Homo sapiens: one gene and its partners. The protein of the gene in region 6 purifies or fractionates together with the protein of the main gene of each other region. This does not show direct contact. Each region holds a gene or a part of one and is shown on either strand. Other genes may lie near its edges. The genes, in order: CNOT9, RBMX, LARP1, CNOT2, CNOT10, RC3H1 and IGF2BP1.

The links.
Region 1: the proteins of RC3H1 (region 6) and CNOT9 purify together in Homo sapiens (affinity purification with mass spectrometry, with the first as the bait; 4 studies listed by BioGRID). This does not show direct contact.
Region 2: the proteins of RC3H1 (region 6) and RBMX purify together in Homo sapiens (affinity purification with mass spectrometry, with the first as the bait; 2 studies listed by BioGRID). This does not show direct contact.
Region 3: the proteins of RC3H1 (region 6) and LARP1 purify together in Homo sapiens (affinity purification with mass spectrometry, with the first as the bait; 3 studies listed by BioGRID). This does not show direct contact.
Region 4: the proteins of RC3H1 (region 6) and CNOT2 purify together in Homo sapiens (affinity purification with mass spectrometry, with the first as the bait; 3 studies listed by BioGRID). This does not show direct contact.
Region 5: the proteins of RC3H1 (region 6) and CNOT10 purify together in Homo sapiens (affinity purification with mass spectrometry, with the first as the bait; 3 studies listed by BioGRID). This does not show direct contact.
Region 7: the proteins of RC3H1 (region 6) and IGF2BP1 purify together in Homo sapiens (affinity purification with mass spectrometry, with the first as the bait; 2 studies listed by BioGRID). This does not show direct contact.

The regions. Positions count from the first base shown.
Region 1 is NC_000002.12:218,578,839-218,582,338, reverse strand, and holds part of CNOT9 (CCR4-NOT transcription complex subunit 9), read right to left. Parts: intron 1,779-3,500; coding exon 1,599-1,778; intron 1,330-1,598; exon of another isoform or gene 1,270-1,329; coding exon of another isoform or gene 1,225-1,269; intron 1-1,224. UniProt on the Homo sapiens protein: Component of the CCR4-NOT complex which is one of the major cellular mRNA deadenylases and is linked to various cellular processes including bulk mRNA degradation, miRNA-mediated repression, translational repression during translational initiation and general transcription regulation.
Region 2 is NC_000023.11:136,875,344-136,877,725, forward strand, and holds part of RBMX (RNA-binding motif protein, X chromosome), read right to left. Parts: intron 1,313-2,382; coding exon 1,160-1,312; intron 243-1,159; coding exon 128-242; intron 41-127; coding exon 1-40.
Region 3 is NC_000005.10:154,800,377-154,803,876, reverse strand, and holds part of LARP1 (la-related protein 1), read right to left. Parts: intron 1,871-3,500; coding exon 1,478-1,870; intron 588-1,477; coding exon 464-587; intron 338-463; coding exon 132-337; intron 1-131. UniProt on the Homo sapiens protein: RNA-binding protein that regulates the translation of specific target mRNA species downstream of the mTORC1 complex, in function of growth signals and nutrient availability.
Region 4 is NC_000012.12:70,340,933-70,344,432, reverse strand, and holds part of CNOT2 (CCR4-NOT transcription complex subunit 2), read right to left. Parts: intron 2,327-3,500; coding exon 2,265-2,326; intron 2,176-2,264; coding exon 2,126-2,175; intron 323-2,125; coding exon of another isoform or gene 306-322; coding exon 205-305; intron 1-204. UniProt on the Homo sapiens protein: Component of the CCR4-NOT complex which is one of the major cellular mRNA deadenylases and is linked to various cellular processes including bulk mRNA degradation, miRNA-mediated repression, translational repression during translational initiation and general transcription regulation.
Region 5 is NC_000003.12:32,765,188-32,768,687, reverse strand, and holds part of CNOT10 (CCR4-NOT transcription complex subunit 10), read right to left. Parts: intron 683-3,500; exon of another isoform or gene 542-682; intron 1-541. UniProt on the Homo sapiens protein: Component of the CCR4-NOT complex which is one of the major cellular mRNA deadenylases and is linked to various cellular processes including bulk mRNA degradation, miRNA-mediated repression, translational repression during translational initiation and general transcription regulation.
Region 6 is NC_000001.11:174,015,858-174,019,357, forward strand, and holds part of RC3H1 (roquin-1), read right to left. Parts: intron 1-3,500. UniProt on the Homo sapiens protein: Post-transcriptional repressor of mRNAs containing a conserved stem loop motif, called constitutive decay element (CDE), which is often located in the 3'-UTR, as in HMGXB3, ICOS, IER3, NFKBID, NFKBIZ, PPP1R10, TNF, TNFRSF4 and in many more mRNAs.
Region 7 is NC_000017.11:48,996,167-49,000,184, reverse strand, and holds the start of IGF2BP1 (insulin-like growth factor 2 mRNA-binding protein 1), read right to left. Parts: upstream 2,801-4,018; 5' UTR 2,440-2,800; coding exon 2,265-2,439; intron 1,077-2,264; coding exon 1,016-1,076; intron 917-1,015; exon of another isoform or gene 1-916. UniProt on the Homo sapiens protein: RNA-binding factor that recruits target transcripts to cytoplasmic protein-RNA complexes (mRNPs). This transcript 'caging' into mRNPs allows mRNA transport and transient storage.

The DNA of each region.
Region 1 (3,500 bases), on a different chromosome or scaffold from region 6:
TCAGTTGAGGGATACTCAAATTTTTATAATTTTGCTAGCATCCTGCTTTAAGTTACAGTGATGAGATCACTGGCCAGAAAGTGTTAAGTCAACCACGGTGACTCATAAAGAAGTTTGAATTTGGTTAGGTAGTAACATGGTAAGGACATGAATCAATGGGTGGGGATATGTATAAACAGCAGTGAATATATGCACTATCTGTCAAAAAGTAATGATTTACTCAATACAATTCCATTTACATTTTTTTTCTTTTTTTTTGAGACAGGGTCTCACTCTGTCATCCAGGCAGAGTGCAGTGGCATGATCATGGCTCACTGCAGCCTCCACCTCCTGGGCTCAATTGATCCTCCTACTTCAGCTTCCCAAGTAGCTGGGATTACAGGAGTGTACCACCAAGCCTGGCTAATTTTTGTATTTTTTGTAGAAATGGTGTTTCGCCATGTTGCCCAGGTTGGTCTCAAACTCCTGGGCTCAAGCAATCCTCCTAACTCAGTCTGCCAAACTGCTGGGATTACAAGCATGACCCACTGCACCTGGCTACAATTTTCCATTTACATTATTTGTAAAACTTTTACATAGAAAAACGTTCCCATAACAAAGATCAGTTTCTTGGCTAAATGCAATAGAGATGGAATGTGAATTTACTTAAGAGTTGAAAAGTTAATCTAATTGTTAGGAATTTGGGGCAATACTTTAATGGATGATCATGCCACTACCTAGGTATTTTGGTATTGTTATTGTACCATATCAGTTAATTAGCCACCAGTGACCATTCTGGTTTGAACTGAACTTCAGTTATCTATTCTTTAATGTACAAGTGTACCCACCTTTAATACTACAGCTGTTATACCTTCAACATTTCCTTTCCAGGCCAGGCATGGTGGCTCATGCCTGTAATCTCAACATTTTGGGAGGCCAAGGTGGGTGGATCACGAGGTCAGGAGTTCAAGATCAGCCTGACCAACATGGTGAAACTCCGTATCTACTAAAAATTAAAAAAAAAAAAGCCAGGCATGGTGATGCAGGCCTATAATCCCAGCTACTCAGGAGGCTGAGGCAGGAGAACCACTTCAACCCGGGAGGCAGAGGTTGCAGTGAGCCGGGATTGCACCATTGCACTCTAGTCTGGGCGACAGAGCGAGATTCCGTCTCAAAAAAAAAAAAAAAAGAAAAACAAACAAAAAAACCCAAAAACCCATTTCTTTTCCATAGAATATATTGTACCTTGTGGTCCTTATACTCTACTTTCCACCTTCCTCCCCCTGTCATGTAGATTTATCTTACAGTACTCCTAAAGCGGTGTTCGTCAAAGCGTAGTTCTTAGATCACTTGCATCACAATCACCTGGGGGAGGTGAAAGTGCTTATTAAAATATAGATTATAGGGCCCACCTCAGACTGACTAAATTGAATCTCTTGGGTAAGGATCCAAGAATCTGCATTTTAACAAATACCTCAGACCTTTCTAAAACAGATTCTTACAAATGCAGTTTTTTAAAGAATCATCCTCCTAAAGTCTTCAAATCATTTGGGCAAAGGTAAAGAAATATACAAGTGTAATGAAAAGAACTGAACTGCCAATCATGGACATGAACCCACCTGTAAAAGTGCTGCAATAGTACCAAATGAATGCCACAGCATGGGTGCAAGGTCAGGAACAGATTCTCGCTTCTTACTTAGCTCCAGCAAAGCATTTTCCCTAGTCTCAGGACTGGACAGCTCATTGATCCACTGATAGATCTTTTCTCTATCCACTTGTGCCAGTGTAGTAGGCACAGGCTTCAGATGAAGACAAGAAAGTAAATATCAGTTTATTAGAGTCAAACCAAGTCTTACCCTGCAACAGAGTTTTAGAGGAAATATATTTTTCATGAATACCAGGGGAGCGTTTCTAAATACATACATTTGATGTCAACTATTCAATCTCTTTGGTAGTTACTGATGAAAATCTAAAATGCACACATACCCTTTGATAATTCCATGTTTAGGAATTTATCCTGTAGGTATAATTGGGCTGTGCTAAAGACATACCAGGATGTTTACTGTTGCACTGTTTTAAAAGCAGAAAAGTGGCCGGGCGCGGTGGCACACCCCTGTAATCCCAGCGCTGTGGGAGGCCATGTTGGGTGGGTCACTTGAGGTCAGGAGTTTGAGACCAGCCTGGCCAACATGGCGAAACCCCGTCTCTACTAAAAATACAAAATTTAGCTGGGTGTGGTGATGGGCGCCTGTAATCCCAGCTACTCAGGAGGCTGAGACAGGAGAATTGCTTGAACTTGGGAGGTGGAGGTTGCAGTGACCCGAGATAGCGCCACTGCACTCCAGCCTGGGCGACAGAGCAAAAAAAAAAAAAAAAAGCCAGGTGTGGTGGTGCATGCCTGTAGTCCCAGCTACTCAGGAGGCTGAGGCACTAGAATCGCTTGAGCATGGGAGGTGGAAGTTATAGTGAGCTGAGATTGCACCATTGCACTCCAGCTTGGGCGACAGAGTGAGACTCTGTCTCAATAAACAAACAAACAAATAAATAAATAAATAAATAAATGCAGAAAACTGGGCCAGGCGTGGTGGCTCATGCCTGTAATCCCAGCACTTTGGGAGGCCAAGGCAGGTGGATCATGAAGTCAGGAGATTGAGACCATCCTGGCTAACACGGTGAAACTGGTGTCTCTACTAAAAATACAAAAAATTAGCTGGGCGTGGTGGCAGGCGCCTGTAGTCCCAGCTACTCTGGAGGCTGAGGCAGGAGAATGGTGTGAACCCAGGAGGCGGAGGTTGCAGTGAGCCGAGATCGCGCCACTGCACTCCAGCCTGGGTGACAGTGTGAGACTCCGTCTCAAAAACAAAAATGCAGAAAACAAACAAGTATCTCTCACTAAGAGACTGGTTAAATATTGGTGCAGCTTTATAATGTGATACTATGTAGTCCTTTAAAAAAAGAAGCAGCTCTCTATATACTGTATATTGATACTAAGTAAAAACAATAAAAGGGTTACAGAAGAGCATATAAAATGTTTCCATTAATATACACACATATAAAAATAAAAAATACATATACATTCTTACACATTTACATATAACATTTCTAGAAGGACACATAAAGAACTGTTAACTGTAGTTACCTCTAAGGTTGGGGATTTACAGGGAGACTTACTTTTCATTGTTTACACTAAAACCTTTTGCATAAACTTTTTTTAAAAAACCATATGCATATAATAGTTTTTGAGAGGAAAAAAAATTATGCCTTCCCAATACTGGTCCCTCCCCAGTGATTCTGACATCCCCCCTCAACTGAGCAGAAAACCTGTAATTTGGAAAAGCTCTCCCTCTTAATGATTCTTCAGTATATTCTCTAACTACATCCCTTTGAGAACCATTCATTACTTACTCATGTAGGAAATACATACTTAATAGGGCATGCTTTCATTATTATGCTAAAGAATCACAATATTCCCCCCAAATTTGAATATTTTATAATTCTCTATAGTCATCAAATATGTTTGT
Region 2 (2,382 bases), on a different chromosome or scaffold from region 6:
TCTAGTATCACGAGAACTTGGGTAATCTCTGCTTGAATAGCTACAAAGCAAAAGTTTTGGTTTATGCTTTTGATAAGCTTTCCTTCAACCTTAATTATTAATTTAAAAAGCTGCACTTTTCTATTACCTGTCTTTAGTAGAATACCCATCATCTCTTGGGGACAAATAAACATCTCTACGAGAGGGCAGCGGTTCCCTTCGAGGTGGACCTCCATAACTATCTCTTCCACGTGATACAGGAGCTTAAGGAAAAATATCATTTTTTTAAACATAGCCAGAGAAAAAAGTTAAAACGTGAACTTACATTCAGGCTATGAAAAATAATGAGACTGACTTCAAAGATGACATTACGGAGGCTAGATCACCTAATTTTATTTTCTACAATTTCCCATTCATATTTTAAATTTTTTTCAGTGCTAATTCCATTTATCTAATCACCTAGAACACATGACTAAAAGTTTTGTTTTTTTTTTTTGAGATGGGAGTCTCGCTCTGTCACCCAGGCTGGAGTGCAGTCGCGCAATCTTGGCTCACTGCAACCTCTGCCTTCTGGGTTCAAGTGATTCTCCTGCCTCAGCCTCCCGAGTAGCTGGGATTACAGGTGCCCACCACCACGCCCAGCTAACTTTTGTATCTTTAGTAGAGACAGGGTTTCACCACGTTGGCCAGACTGGCCTCGAACTCCGGGCCTCATGATCTGCCCACCTCAGCCTCCCAAAGTGTCAAGATTACAGGCGTGAGCCACCGCACCCAGACTCCATGAATAAAGTTTTTTTTTTTTGTTTTTTTTTTTTTTTTGGAGACAGAATCTCACTCTGTTGCCACGCTGGAGGACAGTGGCATGATCTCGGTTCCCTGCAACCTCTGCCTCCCAGGTTCAAACAATTCTCCTGCCTCGGCCTCCCAAGTAGCGGGGATTACAGGAACCCGCCCTACACTCAGCTAATTTTTGTATTTTTTAGTAGAGACGGGGTTTCACCACATTGGCCAGGATGGTCTTGATCTCTTGACACCGTGATCCGTCTGCCGCGGCCTCCCAAAGTGCTAGGATTACGGGCGTGAGCCACCACGCCTGGCCAATTAAAATTTTAAGCATCATTCACCTCTCAATTCTTTGTGTTACGGTAGTAGCATAAATCATCATACATGGAACATTTACCTCTTCCTCCCATTCCACTGCTACTGCGAACTGGTCCTGAAGGTGCAGATCTCTTAGGAGGAGGACCCCCACTTCTTGGTGGTGGTCCTCTTTTTACTGGGAGTGGTCCCCTGGAAGAACTCATGTTAAAATTCATGGAATATCCACCGTCATCTGCATCAAAAATAGAAAAGAAAAATATTACTACTCACAAGAATCAAGAAAGATATAAAAGTTTTTTTTTTTTTTTGAGAGTCTCACTGTCGCCCAGGCTGGAGTGCAGTGGCTTCATCTCGGCTCACTGCAACCTCTGCCTCCTGGGTTCAAGCAATTCTCCTGCCTCAGCCTCCCGAGTAGCTGGGATTACAGGTGTGCGCCACCACACCCAGCTAATTTTTGGTGGTTTTTTTTAAGTAGAGACAGGATTTCACCATGCTGGCCAGGCTGGTCTCGAACTCCTGACCTTGTGATCCGCCTGCCTCAGCCTCCCAAAGTGCTGGGATTGCAGGTGTGAGCCACCAGGCTCGGCCACTATAAAAGTTTTCTTTGCTTCATCAAGAATATGACCATTATTGGGCCGGGCACAATGGCTCACGCCTGTAATCCCAGCACTTTGGGAGGCCAAGGCGGGCGGATCACCTGAGGTCAGGAGTTCAAGACCAGTCTAACACGGTAAAATCCTGTCTCTACTAAAAATACAAAAATCCAGGTGTGGTGGTGCATGCCCGTAATCCCAGCTACTTGGGAGGCTGAGGCAGGACAATCGCCTGAACCTGGAAGGCAGAGGTTGTGGTGAGCCAAGATCGTGCCACTGCACTTCAGCCTGGGCAACAAGTGCTAAACTCTACCCCCCCCCCCCCAAAAAAAAACCATTATTGATTTGGGTAGTCTAGTTTCACTTGTACTTGATGGAGCATGCACTGCAGTCATAGAAACTGGGGAAATAAGAACTGAAGGTAGTCTTAAAAAACTTTTTTTTTTTTTTTTTGAGAGGGAGTCTCGCTGTTCCCCCAGGCTGGAGTACAGTGGCACGATCTCAACTCACTGCAACCTCTGCCTCCCAAGTTCAAGTGATTCTTCTGCCTCAGCCTCCGTAGTAGCTGGGATTACAGGCACCTGCCACCACGCCCAGCTAACTTTAAAAAATAAAAATGATTTCATTTTCATGTCCAACACCCTGGCCTATCAATTTTTAAATGCCTTTCCTACAGAGTGAACTACTTGGACAAGAAGTAACACTGTCC
Region 3 (3,500 bases), on a different chromosome or scaffold from region 6:
AGCCTCAGAACACAGAGCAGGTGAAGGATTTAGCACTTCCTTAGCTCAGACAAGGCAAGGGAGAGAAGCAAAGCACTGGAATGCAATGAAGTAGACCCAAGACTCTGAGCAGCCCGACAGGAATGCCTCACCTTGGCATCCAGTGTCCGTCCTTCTTTCACCACTGGGTAAAACCGTGATGTCTGGCTTGAGTCTTTGAGCTGTGGTGTCCGGGGAGTGCGAGGGGTCCTGGTGTTGCGGTAGTTTGGTGACTCTGGGACAGTGGTTGGTAGAGAGCGGGCGATGGTGGAGGGCTCAGGAGCACCAAACAACTTGTTGGCCAGGGCATCCGTAGGAACTGCAGAGGCAGAGAGAGGAGTCAGGAAGCAGGGAAAGGCCTGTGGCATCCACCCCAGGATAGCCCCCAGTCCAAGGGCCCTAGATCCTCTCACCCATGTCAGGATCTCAGGTGTCTGCTTCTCACCTTGCTGGAACCGAGGTGGCCCAGGAGGAACTTCCTGGTTGGGATCCACAGGGGGCTCAGGGGTCAGTGTGTCAAACTGCTCCCGGCTGATCATATTGACCTTTTTGAAGTTCTCGACTTCTTGCTGCAGAGGTCATGAGATGAGTGGGGAAAGATGTAAGTAAGCAGGCTGCTCTAGCCTGTTTAAGGAATCAAGACTGGCAGGAAGTTGGAGAGGGCAGCTCCCACGTCGACATACGTGGAATTCTGGTCCCCAGGCTCTCAGCTGCCCAGTCACCATTCCTCACCCCAGTTACCTTGGCACAAGTGTGCTAGCCCAGAAGAAGACAGTGCTTGCCCTGCCCTCCCTGTAGTAAGACTGAGATCAGGCTGACAGTAGCTCCTCAGGAACTCACTACACACTCCCCCCTGAAAGCTCCAGTGTTTCCCCATCTCTCTTTCTGCTACTGCCTTATCACACAGTGGCTGGGCAACTCTCCTTCCTCCTTACTTCCAGGAAACACACTGCTACTTATTACAAAGGCTCACCCTAGGACAACCTACCACCAAACATACCCACTCTAAAATCCCACAACAGAGATGTTTTGACTATTTCCAGGCAGCAGCAATTTTTCAAAAGACTTATCTTTTCTCCATTTTCCATACTCAACACAAGCTTCTTAAAAGGCTTCTAAATTTTTAGATGCCTAAATATTTAAGACTAGAAATAACAATCTAACCCTTTTTCTGTTCCCCACAAAAGTGTCTAGCCAACTGTCAGAATATTAACTATGGATCCGCAGATAGGATAATAATCACCACCGCCTCACCTGAAGAGTTTGCAGTGTTTACACATCACCCCTCACTCCTAATGCCCAAGCTAGATGTCAGTCATCATCCCCTTCCCATATATAAAAATCCTGAGACTCTGAATTATAAGGACCTGCCTAAAATTGCACAGCTAATCAGGCTTCCTCTTCTCCGTACAATACAGGCACACCAGGCTCCACACTCACTGCTATGTCCAAGCCTCACCTTGATCTGGGAATACTCAGGTTCAAACTTTTCAGCCCACAGGTCCTGCTCATAGTAGAAGAGGCCATCATTAATGACCTTGGCCAGTTCGGCGCTCATCTTGGCACGCGAGGTGTGGTTGCCTGTGCGGTCCCCCCCTGGGTGCCGGCGCATGTAATGTGGTGTCTGGGTGACAATGAGGATCTTGTTGACATCCCTGTCATCAATCTCATAGTCAGATTCCTCATCAGACCAGGCAGTGAAGGTGTTCTTCCGCCCATCCATCTGCTCCATCTCCTCGTCAAACAGAAAATCCAGTTCCTCTTGCTCATCCTGATCCTTGGACATCAGCTGCTGGGAAGGCAGCTGCTGAGGCAGAGAGGTCAGGTGGGAAAATCTGGACTCCTCTGACTTCTAAAATAGGACAGACGAAGGGGAAAAGGAATCACCAGAGATCCTTGGCCCAGATTCTGTAGCTATACCATGAGAGGGAAGCTCCAGCCTCTCAACATAAGACTGTTCAACTATGACCCTGGTAACACCAGCAGGTCACAAGCGTCATCCTGGGAGTCAGCTTTATGACTATGAGAAAGGATGTTTCATAGAAGTCCAGGTTCCTCCACTCACAGCTCATATCACAGTCATGCACAAACAACTGATGATGACTTCTCTATAGGCAGGAACTGTGCTCTCATTTACCTTTATATCCTACATAGCACCTAGCTTAGGAGTGGACACACAGAAGTTCAGCAGGTTGATTCATCCACTTATCCATCTATTCAACATCTCCCAATAAACTGGAAGCTCCATGATCCACAGCTGCCTTGCTTTCCATTATATACTCAGTACCTAGACGGGGATCTGGTAATACCAGATGTTCAATTATATAATAAATGAGGGAGTACCCATTAGTCCTAAGCTCTGTATGAAAAACCTAAAAGCAGAATAAGACAAGGTCCCTGTTACTTAGGGAGCTCAATGGGAGAAAGTCAACCAAACAGCCAACTGCATTGTGGTATGGTAAAGGCTATAAGCAGGTTTGTGGATGCACACAGTTAAAGGAGCTTAGTCAACTGTGACTAAGAATGGTTACGGAAGGCCTCCTTCAAGAAGTGACTACCACAGGATGAACATAAGTAAGCCAGATGAAGATAGGGACAGACTAGGCAGAAAGAATACCATTGTTCCAAAGGCAAGAGAAAACACGGTGCCTTCAGCAAAGAAAAACTATTTGTTTTGATAGACTGAATATGAGACGCTGAGAGAGAAGCATTTGTCTAAACCCACAGTATTTATTCAAAAGTAGATTCCCTGCTGTGCCAAGAGCACATAAACTCTAAACCTATCTTTTTTTAAGGTTTAAGATAGACCAGGTCAGAGTAGGGGCTCTAATTCTGGAATGGGAGCTAAGTCTGACCCCTGTTTCAAACAAAACTTTGTAGGCCTGGACTTTGTAAAACCCTCATCTACTTACTACCTTTCTCCTCATGTCTCTGGCTGGATCTCCAACACTTTTTGAGGGCTGAAGCCACAACTGTGGGGAATTCTGTGTATGAACAGGCAGGCAAGAGAAAGGAGATGAGAGGTAATCACTGTGGGAAAATAGATAAGGGAGTATAGAATTCCATAGACCCAAAGTTCAAGGTCAATTCTGCAGTCTCCTCACAAGCCCCAGGCCAGAGGTCTCCAAAGTGGGTGACAGTGAGCAGGTATGTGGAGAAAAATTCAGCACTTAAAAAGGAAGTAGTAATTTTAGTTAGAGATTGCAATACTTCTTTAACAGTGAACTTCATCTGTTTATATATATAAACTATTTCTAGAATATTCTAATGTCTCCTTCCTTTCATCTGCAGATGGAGAAACTGAAGCCTTGAGGTATGAACAGGCTTCCCAAGGTCACCTTGCCATTAGTGCAGCAGACTTGTGTAGACTAACTCCATATTTGGGCCATGCATCTGCTCCCTCTCCCTTCCTTCTTCTGAGGACCTAAGGGGCTTACATACATGATAGTGGGGACATACTCAGGGAAAAGACACCAAAAACG
Region 4 (3,500 bases), on a different chromosome or scaffold from region 6:
TGAAATTCTTTTTAGGTATATAGATTATGAAGCCATGGTTAAGATACGGTTTTAATCTAAATTAAATTCACTTTAATAATGTAAAAATAAATTTCTTGATGGAGAAATAGTTCCATTTAAAGATAGCCATCATCACTTAAAGATGTTTTCAGCATAGTCAAGATCCACTATAATACAAAAGTGATTAAAATACTTTGAACATACAGCTCCACTGCAGCTAAAAGTTGTAATACGTCTCCTCCATTCATGTAATAGAGATAGAAGAGAAGGTCTTCACCATATCGGCCAAGTTTTATTGCAGCCAGCTGAAAAAGAAAAATAACTTATTCTGAAATATAAAACAAATCTGCAAATCCTAATATATAGTTGCTACTACTAAAGAAAAAATGGAGAGATAAACAGAAACTCCCCACTTTGTAGTAGATAACTGTTATTACATGATTACACAGATAGGTAGTTAAGATTCTAAAAGGGAATTTCCTCATTTAAATGACTGAAGTCATTTAAACAATTATTTCTGATACATCTAATTGATATGCTGACTGGAAGAAAAGCTCAATAAAGACTTCCAAGCAAGATCCACTAAAAGGATTTAATACCCAATGGGGAAAAGAACCTAACAATAGCATTGTGCTCAGAGATCTAGGACTTGTATTCAAGTCCTGGTTTTATTACTCATTAATATGACTGTGTCCTAGTTATTTAAAATCTCTTAGCTTTACTTGTCAAATGTGGACAATGACACCTATGAGGGTTACTAAGAAAGTAAATAAAATGAGTGAAGGTATATGAAAGCACCTTGTAGAGTGCCAAATATATAGACGGCTTATAAAAAATGTTAAACTGAATCTATATCTGACAGTGAATGATTCACAAGTCAGTTGTATGCTTTCAGCAAATCACAGATGATGAATACAAAAATCATAAAGAAATGGCTTTTCAGTTTGTTTAAATAGATGTCTGAAAGATGATTGCTTTACATTTCTCTCCCCAAGGTAGAAACATAACTGCTTACCAAACTGTAAAACATAGGTTCAATAGTCTCAAATTTTCACATTTAAATAAACCTTAAAAGTGTCCCAAAACAACATTTTTATCTCGTTATTTGATCCTATATCGAAATACTTATTTGGTTATTACACATTCTCTGAATGTAATTTTTCTCTCCATTCATGTTATCCCTATTCAGGCAGCAGCCCCAATGTGACAAATTCTCCTAAATTAGTATTTCTCAAATTGGTAATAAGAAAAGGTTCTGGAACACTTTGGTAATTGGAGCGAAAGAGCTCTACAGTGGTGGTGGGAGCAAATCACACAATCCGCAAATAGAAAATAGGAGACCTCTCCATCTTGTATTTCTTGCCTTTTATCTACTCAAGTATTAGAAGACATTGAGAAAGGTATCCCTTTACTTGCCTGTCCACATCAACATCCACTTGACCACAGAACTGTAAGGCACACTCAGAATGCTGTTGTATATATACACATACACATAGATATTTATACACAAATATATAACAAAAATATATTTTTTCACTAAATTGTAGTTTCCCAAGGCTAAAATTTAGGTACCATTGTGAATATTTTTTGGTAATAGAAACAAACTCTCAGTTCTTCTAAAGCAAAAAGTGCCACCATTTTCTTTCTTAGATTGAAAAAAGAGAGATTAAGCTGTAATCTGTTGTTAATAACTACTTTAGAATTAGAATTTTAGGTGATTTAAAAAAATGGAAATGAAAAAATACAGAGAAAAGTCAAAGGTCATAAATAGTTTTTAAAGATACAGACCATCTCATTAAAAACACTGTATCTGTAATACTTGTAACGAAAATCTTTTTACTGGTAAGGTCATAAAATAAGATTATCAGAAGGATATTTATCAAATGTTCCAATCTAGTTTATTCTCATCAACTGCGGTTATGGTTGTAACCTGTTGTTAAATGTAAGAATTTTTATTTTTTACCAGTCCTAACATTTACCATTTAACAAGTTAACATGGACATATGAAAGCATATCCCTGAGACCATTACTAATTATTTCAAAAATAGTATGCTGCCTGAACTGAAAAACATGTGAAAAATAGATAAATTCATGCTGACTGAGTAGAATAATAAACTACACTCACCTTATCCCTAATGTGAATGTTCGTTAAGTACTCAGATGGAACATGGAAGTCTGGATAATAAAATGAAAAAAGCCTTATTAACTGATTCTCAATTGTAAATTTCTTTTTAAAAGGTCTAAACACAAATAGATTCTCCTACCTATGTCTTGAGGTCGACAAGGTGAAGATGCCCAGGGTGACGCAAATTTGGGGTAGAGATTTCTGAATAAGGAGGAAAAGAAAACATTTTGAAATCCAGAAAAAGAGATTTCTAATTTTATTTCAGGAAAAACAAAGACTCCAACTGTAAAATGACCATCTTTACTTCTAATTCCCTTACTTGGGTTTACTGACTTATACAGAAGCAAATGAAGACTGTGTGTGTTTGTGTGTGTGTCTGTAAAATATGATAGGACTCCTTCCCTCAGTATTCTTGCAATACAGTATAAATAACACAACATATCACAATATACAAAACATGATTAAAAATTTTCTACTTTTACTTGATTTCAACTCAAGATGCTTTAAATTCTTCAATACCATGCTCCCAATATAAATTAAATTTTAAATAAATTTTAAATAAATTTCCCATTTATTTGTGTGGCAAGAAGAAAACTGAGTAACTATTTGCAAAAGTTTAAATTCATCAAATATTTACTGAGTGCCTATTATATGCCTGGCACTGTTCTAGGAGCTTACGACACATCAGTGAGCAAAACAAGATCACTGACAACATGAAACTTACTTTCTGGTTGAGGATGGTGGATTGGAGGGGGACAGACAAAATCAATTAACAGAATAAATAAATAAACAATGGCCCATGTTAGAGGGGAACTGGGAGGGGAGACTGGATGCATAATTATTAAATAGGGTGGTCAGTTAGGTTTCATTAAGGTGGTCAGATCTGAAGATTTGAAGGCTATAAGGGACATAGTCATATTAATTATCTGGCAGAAGACTCTTCTAGTCTGAGGGAACTCCTAGAGCAACTAAGGCAGGGACATGACTGACATGCCTGAGATATAACAAGGTGGCCAGTGAAGCTGGAATACAGTGAACAAAGGGAAAAGCTGTTGAGGTGGGGTTAGGGGACAAACAATAATCATGTAAGACCTTGCAGGCCTGTGAAGATTTGGGGTTTCTGGTCAAGCGCGGTGGCTCACACCTATAATTCCAATACTCTGGAAGGCCAAGGTGGGCAGACCACTTGAAAAGTGAGGAGTTAAGAGACCAGCCTGGCCAACATGGTGAAATCCCGTCTCTACTAAAAATACAAAAATTAGCTGGGCATGGTGGCACATGCCTGCAATCCCAGCTACTCAGGAGAATCGCTTGGACCTGGGAGGTGGAGGTTGTAATGACCCGAGATTGCATCACTGCACTCCAGCCTGGGCGA
Region 5 (3,500 bases), on a different chromosome or scaffold from region 6:
CAACTCTTTTCAGAAAATGAGATTTTATATATCTAAGCCTAGCTTTCTAGGCAAGCTGTATAGGCAAGATCGTCTTTATACCATTTTGTGGATTTTTTTTTTTTGAGACGGAGTTTTGCTCTTGTTGCCCAGGCTGGAGTGCAATTGCACGATCTAGGCTCACTGCAACCTCCGCCTCCTGGGTTCAAGCGATTCTTCTGCCTCAGCCTCCCAAGTAGCTGGGATTACAGGCTCCTGCCACCACGCCCAGCTAATTTCTTGTATTTTTAGTATAGACGGGGTTTCATCATGTTGTCCAGGCTAGTCTTGAACTCCTCACCTCAGATGATCCACCCGCCTTGGCCTCCCAAAGTGCTGGGATTACAGATGTGAGCCACTGTGCCCGGCCCATTTTGTGGATAGTAAAATCTCTGTTTTCCATCCAAGTGGCTAGTAACACATTTTATTTACTGTTTTTTTCAATGACCACAGTCTGAAGCTTTTTTTAAAATACAAGAATTCAAGGCAACATCTTTATGATACTTAATGGCATTTTGCTTACTGGCTGTTCAGAATGGTTAGTGGTGGGCAGGCAACCTTGGAAACATCTACTCGGAGCCCTTTCCAACTCTTCACATCACTGTTCTTCCCTCCCAGGCAGGGTGGGCCTCCCAATTAACAAAGGTCCAGCCATTGGATTAACCTAAAAACCAAGGGACCAAAACAAAACCCCCTTCAGACCCCAAACCAGGCCTGACCCCATCTGTCTCTCCCAGCGTGGCAGCAGCCATGGCCACCTGCTGTACGAGAACCTCAGCTGGACTGTACACACTGTAACTTTAGATCAAAAGCTCTGTTTGCTGCAGTGACTGAGGTCTGGGGGCACTTTGAGAGGGGCTGCTCAACACCCTAGCCTTGTTACTGAGAAGAGTGAAACATTTTAACTCTTACTGGTTTAACTCATACACTCAATGCCTAGATAATATCAAACATGTTACCCTGGACAGCCTGTCACTTAACTTTTCTGATCTGGGATCAGAAATGCTGACCAGATGCCACTAAGTTGACTAAATAGAATTTGTAGTTATTTTTCACATGGTAAAGCATCATCACTTCTAGGCACAACAAGGCTGCTCACATAAGCAGGAACCTATGTGAAAGCCACATAGGCTTTTTTTTTTTTTTTTTTGAGACAGAGTTTCGCTCTTGTTGCCCAGGCTGTAGTGCAATGGCGCGATCTCGGCTCACCACAACCTCCACCTCCTGCGTTCAAGCAATTATCCTGCCTCAGCCTCCCGAGTATCTGGGGTTACAGGCATGTGCTACCACGCCCAGCTACTTTTTGCATTTTTAGTAGAGATAGGATTTCTCCATGTTGGTAAGGCTGGTCTCGAACTCCTGACCTCAGGTGATCTGCCTGCCTCGGCCTCCCAAAGTGTTGGGATTACAGGTGTGAGCCACTGCGCCCGGCTGAAAGCCACCCTATCTCCTGAGAAGAGGTTTAATATCAACTTTAGTTGCTGTGGCAAGCATGTGGGGATGTGGGCCTTCTCATCTGCTGCTGGAGAATGTACCATTTGATACAAACTTTCTATATCAGAAGTCTTAAAATCCTGCATATCCTCTGACCATGCAATTCCCTTTTTAGGAAGGTGTCTCCTAACTGCAAAGGTCTACAAGCAAGGGCAAGATTGTAGTATGTCTGCTTATGTGCAGTCTTATTCCCATGGCTTAGCTCAGAAGTAAGTGCTCAACAGATATCTGCTGGATGAATGTCCTTTTGAGGAACTATTTCTAATTTTGTGAGATTCCTCTGGGGCTGCCAATGGTGGTACCCAGTCCCCTACTACAGGTATGGCTCAATGCCCATGATTGGTCCAGGGATTGGCAGGTGACCTACTAAAGAGATCCAATCAAAATCTTCCTTGAAGCTTCATGATGCACCATTTCAGTGGTAGAATTCAGAGGTTTATTTTAGTTATATATTGCCAGTAGCTTTCTTTAGTGTGTATGGAGTTTCTCTAGTATTGGCTTTCTGAAAGGTGGATTTATAATTCACTTTTTTTTTTTTTTTTTGAGACAGAGTCCCGCTCTGTTGCCCGGGCTGGAGTGCAGTGGCGCGATCTTGGCTCACTGCAAGCTCCACCTCCCGGGTTCATGCCATTCTCCTGCCTCAGCCGCCCGAGTAGCTGGGACTACAGGCACATGCCACCACGCCTGGCTAATTTTTTTGTATTTTTAGTAGAGACAGGGTTTCACCGTGTTAGCCAGGATGGTCTTGATCTCCTGACCTCATGATCCGCCCACCTCGGCCTCCCAAAGTGCTGGGATTACAGGCATGAGCCACCGTGCCTGGCCTATAATTCACATTTTGAAAAAAGATTTACACAATTCAAAATTTAAAAGCACCTGGGCACGGTGGCTCACACCTGTAATCCCAGCACTTTGGGAGGCTGAGGCGGGTGGATCACCTGAGGCCAGGAGTTCGAGACCAGCCTCAACATGGAGAAACCCCGTCTCTATTAAAAATACAAAATTAGCCGGGCGTGGTGGTACATGCCTGTAATCCCAGCTACTTGGGAGGCTGACGCAGGAGAAGTGTTTGAACCCGGGAGGCGGAGGTTGCAGTGAGCCGAGATTGCGCCATTGCACTCCAGTCTGGGCAACAAGAGCGAAACTCCGTCTCAAAAAAAAAAAAAAAAAAATTAAAAGCATAACAGTATACAGTGAAAAGTCTCCCATTCTACTGCTCCAGCCATGTAGTATTCGTCCTGCCACCCCAACAACTAATGTTTGCAGTTTCTTGGTGTGTCCTTTCAGAGATCTTTTATGCATGTATACAGGGTTATACAGAAACTGTTTCACACCTTGCTGTTTTCATTTAGTATGTCTTGGACATCTTTCCATTTTAGTACCTAGAGTTTATAGCTGCATTGTCTTCAACTGTACAGATGCACTATTATTTATATAAGTGATCTTTTAGACAGTTTTCCATCTTTTGGAATTTTAATAATTAAAACTGTCAACTTACTTCTTTTGTCTTTTTTTTTTGGGGGGACAGGGTCTCACTCCAGTTGCCCAGGCTGGAGTGCAGTGGCATGATCTTGGCTGACTACAGCCTCAACCTCCCAGGCTCAGGTAATCCTCCTACCTCTGTCTCCTAAGTATCTGGGACTACAGGAATGCACCACCATGCCTGGCTAATTTTTGGTATTTTTAGTAGAGACAGGGTCTCATTATGTTGCCCAGGCTGGTCTCAAACCCCTGGACTCAAGTGATCTGCCTGTCTCAGCCTCCCAGAGTGTGGGATTACAGATGTGAGCCACTGTGCCCGGCCCCAAGTTGCTTTTTATTCTGCTGATTTGAAATTTAAACATCTTTTTTTTTTTTTGAGACGGAGTCTCGCTCTGTTGCCCAGGCTGGAGTACAGTGGCACAATCTTGGCTCACTGCAACCTCCGCCTCCCGGATTCAAGCGATTCTCCTGCTTCAGCCTCCCGAGTAGCTGGGACTACAGGTGCG
Region 6 (3,500 bases):
TTTAAAGACATTATTTTTATTTTTGTATTTGTTGACACTATCTACTTCAAGATAAAAGTTCGGCCGGGTGCAGTGGCTCATGTCTGTAATCCCAGCACTCTGGAAGGCCGTGGCAGGTAGATCACCTGAGATCAGGAGTTCAAGACCAGCCTGGCTAACGTGGTGAAATCCCATCTCTACTGAAAATACAAAATTTGGCCGGGCATGGTGGCATGAGTCTGTGATCCCAGCTACTTGGGAGGCTGAGACACAAGAATTGCTTGAACCCAGGAGGCAGAGGTTGTAGTGAGCCGAGATCATGCCATTGCACTCCAGCCTGGGTGACAGAGCAAGACTCCGTCTCAAAAAAAAAGTTATTTTTATAATTTAAATGTATTAATTGAGTACATTAGCTTTCCACTAAATGTTAGTCTAAAAAATTAATGAGGCATATATAAAAACACAGAAACATGTATTTACAAAAAGTTGACATTTTCCTGAAAAAAATTACAGAAAACCAGAAATTTTACTGCAGAGTTCTAAATATTCTGACATAATCCTTTTCCTTATCATTTTTTAAGTTTCCTTTTTTTTTTTTTTTTTTTTGAGGTGGGGTTTCACTCTATTGCCCAGGCTGGTCTGGAACTCCTGGCTTCATGAGATCCTCCTGCCTTGGCCTCCTAAAGTGCTAGGATTACAGGCTTGAGCCACTGTACTCAACTTAAGTTGTTCTTATAACTAAATTATAATTATGTATATTAATAAAATTTTCCTTAAGGAGGGGAGATTAATAACAAAATTTTAAATTTTTTTTGTACTTAGATCTCCTATAACCCCATTAGAAATATTTACTAAGAACATAAAGTGACTTTTGTTTCTCATAAATTTTAAGATTTCAATTCAATTAGATAAAGTACCATTTTGAATTTAAGATAACAATATATTTCTAAAGCCCCAAATGGAAATGTCAATCTTAGCAGTAACTCTAAAGTCCAAGTTTATTACCCTTTATTCTAGAAAGAAAAAAAAAAACTAATTTTGTCTCCCTCAGTCAGCCAATTAAAACAATCCAAAAAAGCTTACTAAACAACTGCCTTTGTAACACTGTTCATGTTTTTAGAGGTGATCAGGTATAGGGCCAAGATCAAGGTTTCTAACACTTATTCAACAAGGGATTAAAAGCAGAGTGCCACGCAAATCAAAACTCTAAATATTCTCAAAGATTAGCTGAATAAAATAGTCATAAAGTTAGATTCACAGGGATCAAAGAGCTTCAAATTCTAAAAATCGTTTCCCAGTGTAACTTCAAATAAATCCTTTGTGAATATTCCTAGTTTCTTCTATACATTAAGAAAACCTAAAAGGCAAACAAGTTCTAGATAGGAGACCAAGTATTAGTTGTTCACATTTGTATAGAACATTAAATTTTAGTTCTTATAACCCAATGAAGAAATACAAATGAGTCTAAGAGTTTGAGCAAAACCCTCTGGGGTGATCAAAACAAAACTGCAAACTTCTATGAGTCTCAACTTTTCTTCCATAAAGAGTCCCTGGCAGCATGTCTACTGTACTTAGAGAAGCATGCAAAGAATTAGGTGGTTTTTTATTCCTAACAATCACATCCCAAAGTTTTTTCTGCAATTTCAATTGTACAGAGTACTCTTCCTCGATGTTGGCTCAAATTAGAGACAGAAAGCAGAATGGCGTTTGCTAGGGATTAGGGAAGAGGGGAATACAGAGTAACTGCTTAATGGGTACAGTGTTTCCTTTTGGGGTAATGAACACATTCTGGAATTAGAGCTGGTGGTTGAACAACATTGTGAATGTATAAAGTGCCACCTAAACTGTTTACTTTAAAATGGTTAATGTTATGTGACTTAACCTCAATAAAAAAAATTATGTTAATCTGTAGATAAAACTGACCCCTTTAGAACTCTTTTCTTGCTCAAAAAAAAAAAAAAAAAAAAAAAAAAACTGCTACCATGTTCAAATGCTATTTAGATCTTGGAAATTTTTTAGATAAAATGCACTTATAAGTTAAATTATTACCACATGTGCACAGTAATAATCAGTGAAGGTATACCAGTGTCAGTTTAAAACATTGTTATGCCTGTAATCTCAGCACTTTGGGAGGCAGAAGTGGGAGGATCACCTTGCTCCCAGGAGTTTGAGACCACCCTGGGCAACACAGCAAAATGCTATCTCTATAAAAATAATAAAAATTAAAAAAAGTAGCCAGGTAAGGCGGGAATAACACTTAAACCAAGGAGTTTGAGGCTGAAGTGAGCTATGATAATGCCACTGCACTCCAGCCTGGGTGACAGACCATGAGTGACTCTGTCATTCATTCATAATATATACATACAGCATTGCTAAAATGCTTGATAACTGTCAAAAGAATATTGCTCTGACATACATCTGCAAATAAGTAAGGTGACTTTAAATTTGAGGAAAATTCTTTCCCCAAGCCTCAATCAGGAAAACAATATAAACTAATAAGAAGTATCTAATAAACAAAAAGTAAACAAGAATATTATATAAGTAAACAGGCACAATCCTGACCAAAAATGGACAGAAATAAATATGCTAAAGTTAAGTGTCTGGGGGATGTAGGGCAACATTACTTCAGATTGGTAAATGTCACACTTCAAAAATAGAAGGAATCTACCTTAAGAAACTCTGTAGTAAGAAAACCTCCTTTGTATAAATGCCTGACAAAATTAATCTTTTATCATAACCTCTAAAGCTAGTCCAAATCCAGCCTAGATTCCAGAATTACACAAAAGAAAAAATCTTGGAGACGGTTCTGGGAAAAGGCTGACCAAAATCTGTGACTGTTTTGATACAGGCCAATCTGAGAATTTTAATCCCTCTGAACCCAATCCTGCAGAATACCTGAACCCTGAGCACAGACGGGGCCAAAGCTAAACCAGGTCAGAATACCCTGCCAAGGAACATCCTGATCTGAGGTGTTCACCAAACAGGGATCATTTATCAGTTTATTCTTCACTTTGTTGGATGCTGACCATTTTCAAGATATATGCAAGAGTGGACTGATTAGACCCATCAGAATCCATTTCAAGCCCTAAGATCTGGAGATGAAAAATACTGCAGAATTCTAAATTATCTATGGCTTAAAGAAAAAAAATTATAAATTAAGAACTTCAAATATTAGCTGACCCAACTTTAACATCATTGAATATCTTTAATTATTTAAAAAAATTTATAAAGTATTTCAAAGGCACAATTTAGTAATTGCCTATGTAACAAATTAACCATGAAAACAATTACAGCAGTATGATAAATCTGTCCTATGTAAACAGTATGAGTTTTTATATTTTATAGCATTCAGATATGCTAAAAACAAAAATTTAAGTGTTTCTTTTGTGATTCACATGAACAAATACTTTCTTGGTCTTACAAGTAGATATCTGACAGGATACAAATAATGATAATAGGGTAAGTTCACAGGCAAAAAAAGGAATCTGTCAACACAGAAGATGCTTCAAAGTTTAACTGTG
Region 7 (4,018 bases), on a different chromosome or scaffold from region 6:
TCCAGCTTGGGACATGAGAGCAAACTCTACACTGTCAACATGTTTAAAGTCTGATTTGAGAAAGTAGAAAGACTCTGCCCTTATACTTCCCAGCCAGAGTTCAAGGAAAGGTTTCAGAGTTCAATGCAAGATTTGAAATCCACCATGAATTCTCGGTAAGTATGATGGAGGTACCCCATTTTGCTGAAGAGAGAGGATAGAGGGTATTGGAACACACACGAACACACACACACACACACACACACACACACACACACACACCATTCATCCACGGAGTTCTAGACCCTCCAAAGAGCCCCAGCTCACAGCCTCAACACAAAGCTCTCACCCCAGATGGTCCCCTGGTAACAATGGGCTGAAGGAGTGGGGGTAGGGGGGCTCGAAAAGGATAGTACAGCCAAGGCATATTCTTTGGAAAATCCAGCTGGGGAGAGGGATGATGTGAGATATGAGGGATTGGGGGTGGGGGGTCCATGGAAAATAAAAAGTCTTTGCCTGTTGTAGAAATATAAATAAAGTACAAGCATAAGGGGATTCTTTGGGGGCCGGGAAACTCATTCCACATCGCTTCGGGAGAAGGGCAATCCACTTAAGAATTATGGTGTGGAAAGAGTGGGAAAAACAGAAAATGAGGCCTGCTACGAAGTTGCAGAAATCGCCATGAGTCTGAACTCTTCAAAGATTTTAAGGTTCCCCCACAAAAAACGGCCCCACGAGTTGAACAAACAAACTCCACAAGGTTTCTCCCCTATTGATTTTCTTTCCCCTTTAATTCTGCAAGTAACATCTTTTAGCCTACCCCAGCCCCAACTTATTTATTTTTTTTTTACAAGCTGTAAACCACCCATTACAAGATCTTGGCCAATCTTCCCTCCCTGCCCCCAACATCCGGAGTTGGGGGTGGGAAAGACCAGTAATGGGTTTCTTCCACTGGAGACGCTATGGACCCCTGAACACAGCTTCACAGCACACCCCCGCGGCCCCCCCACCCCCCCCGAAAAGAGCTCTTTCCTACCTTTGTTTTTTGGGCACCGAATGTTCAATCTCTAAGCGTTTTCCTTGTAATTCTACTTTCCCTAAAGATTAAAAAAAAAAAATTACCATGAGAGCTTGAACAGGGGTTGGGGGTGGGAAGAGGAAGGGGAAAAGACACTAGGATAATTCAGGAGTTACTGGGATTCGAGATCTTCCTAGGAATCCAGGCAGTGGCTTCCGCATCCAGATGGGAAAAAGGTTGCTCTAGGAATGGTGGAGTCTGTAAATTCGTTATTATTCATTTTTTAATTTTTGCTTTATTAAATCACTGAGGCTTGTTGAGTGGATCGCTCTGGAATCCCGATTTGGGAAAGGTGCGAGGCCATTTGTGTGGGTGCGCTGCCTACACAGCTCCCAGATGTGGGAAGGAGCCAGGAAAGAAAGGGCTCCCCGTTCCTCAGAAAGTGGGGCGCGGGGCGGGAGGCAGTGTGCAGAATGAAACTTTATTTTTCTCTGTTGGCCAGGAAGACGGGCTTTGGGCCACGGAGCGGTCACCTGTCGGGGCTGGTTTGGGAAGGGGTGGACCTGGGGGAGCGGAGCGGGGCCTGGCGGGGAGGGTCCCTCACTGCCACCGCGCGCGCCTCTCGGCCCAGCCTCGGCGTCTCGGGAAGCAGCATGGCGACCCGGCGCCGCCGCCGCCGCGCCACCCCGCTCACGCCCCACTTTCAAATCAAAATGGCTCAAGCCCCAGGCCCTGGGCGGGAGGCAAGACCCCCTTCCTTGCAAGTCCTGCTGGAGGGCTGCATTCCCCACGCGAAGCGGACAGATCGCAGGCGGTCCGGGTACCCCTTCCACGCCTGGAAAGGCCTAAGACTGAGGAACGGGAGCCGGGGTTTTCCAGCTGGGGGGGCGTCCACCGGCGGATAGGGAGGGGCTGGGCGTGGAAATAACGCCCAGCCAGGGGTCATCCCCGTGTCCCTAAATTCAACCCCCCACTACTGCCAGTGGGGGCTCCCGCCCCGTCGGTGGGGAGGAAGGATGGGGGAAGCCAGAGCTCCTTATCTCAGGCTGGGAGAAAGGGATGAGGAAATCCCGAATGTTTCTGCGCGGGGGTGGGAGGCGCAGAGCGAGGGAGGGGGCATCGAAGGGGGTAGGTCGAGGGTGGGTACGGAGGCCAAACCCCGCAGGCCCGGGAAGAGAGGAGTTGGCGGGAGAGGAACCGGAAGGTGCGGGTCTCCGTTGTTCGGGGCTCTCGTTGTGGCTTTTCCGGGAGGTGGCTGTGTTCTTACCGGAGAAAGTTTCGATGGCCTTCATCGCCCAGTGCTCGTCCGGGCAGTCCACGAAGGCGTAGCCGGATTTGACCAAGAACTGGCCGCTGTAGGAGATCTTGTGCTCCGCAAACACTTTCTCCAAGTCCGCGGGGGTCACGCTCTCGTTGAGGTTGCCGATGTAAAGCTTGTTCATGGTGGCGGTCTCGGGGCAGGACGCGGTCCCGGGCAAGGCCGAACGAGCGGGCGCGGGCGGCGAGCCTCCTAGGCCAAGAGGCGGAGAGGCCGGCGGCAGGAGCCGCAAACTTTCTTTGCACCCCACCCCAGAAGTTGTCCCGAGCCCAGGGCGGGGAAGGCGGCCTGAGGGCGCGCAGAGGTCGCGGGAGAGTTCGGGGAGAGCCCAGGAGAAGTGCCCGCGGCGCGCAGGGAGACGGACGACACGGCGCAGCTTCTTCCCTTCGGTCCGAAACCCCTCCGAGAGGGCTGGTGTGTCACGTTTCTCCGCGGCCGCCCTGGCGCCGCCTCTAAATAAAATCGACTTGAAAAAAAATGGAGCGGAAAAAAAAAAAAAAAAAAAAAGGAGAAGCCACGTGGTGACAGCCCCCACCCACCCTGCAGGGAAAGACCCCCGACGCCACAGGGCCCCTCGGCCCTCCGGCCAAACCCGATAATCTCCCGCCTGAGGGTGGGGAACTCAACTCACCCCCGGGGTAAACTGGGGCGGTGCGGCAGCGTCCCTGAAGCTCTACAGGCCCCTTCCCCCTTTGCAAGAACCTGGCCCCTAGGGAAGCGCCCCGCCCCCACCCATCCCCCTACCCCAGCCCAAACTGGGGGAGGATGGTCCAGCCCAGATCTCACATGTCTTAAAGGGTAAAATGTACGGTTATTTTTCATTCGTTTTGGGGGGCGGGGTTGCTCACCCCTCCCCGGTTAACTGCTAGCGACTGACAGGCGGGGGACGGCCGAGACAGACAAAGAGAAGCCGAAGACTCTGGGGTCTTCAGGAGAGGGTCGCACGAGCTGGTGATTTAAAAAGAAAGGAACCTTTTCCCTAGATGTTTAAATGGGGGGGGTCTCCGCCTTCCCCACGCCAGCCCCACGAAACTCCCCCGCCTCCGGGGATGCAGGACCGGGGGACCCTGCGAGCGCGGGACTGGAAAGCTGGGAACGGGGTATCCCAGTGGAGAACGAGGAAGCCGCAGGAAATAATGTTTTGAGATCCCCACGGGAGAAAGGGTGGTTCGCACCCGGGGTCCGGCTGTTAAATGATAACGTTTCGGGGTCCTGAGGGGAACACGCGGAACTGGCCGGAGATGACTCCAGGAGACAGGAACGGTGGGAGACAAGGAAGAGGAGTGATAGCTAGGGCTAACCGGAGCGAACTGAAGGGGGAGGTCTTAGGGAGGGAGTGACCGGGTGGAGATTTGAATGGTCCCCTTTTCCCTCCCAGAGTCGGGGACAGACAGGTGGAGTTTCCAGAGCCTGCACCACCCGGGACACTGCTGGCAGCTCTCTAGGCCCTAGGTTCGGGTCTCGGAACTTTGTTTGGGGTGCAGGATTCCGATCCTGGCGGGAAGGCGGGAGAGGGACGGAGGGCGGGGGGCTAAGCGGGAAGCCCCGCCCACGTCCCCAGGTCAGACCCGCGGGGGGAGGGGGTAATTTCCGCTCCGCGCACGGGGAAGCGAGGGGCGGGAGCTTAGGGGAGGGGGCGGCGGCCACTCCCCTCCTCCTCCCGCCGTTCCTGGGGAGGGGGAAGCGGATCCGCCTGGGTCCCT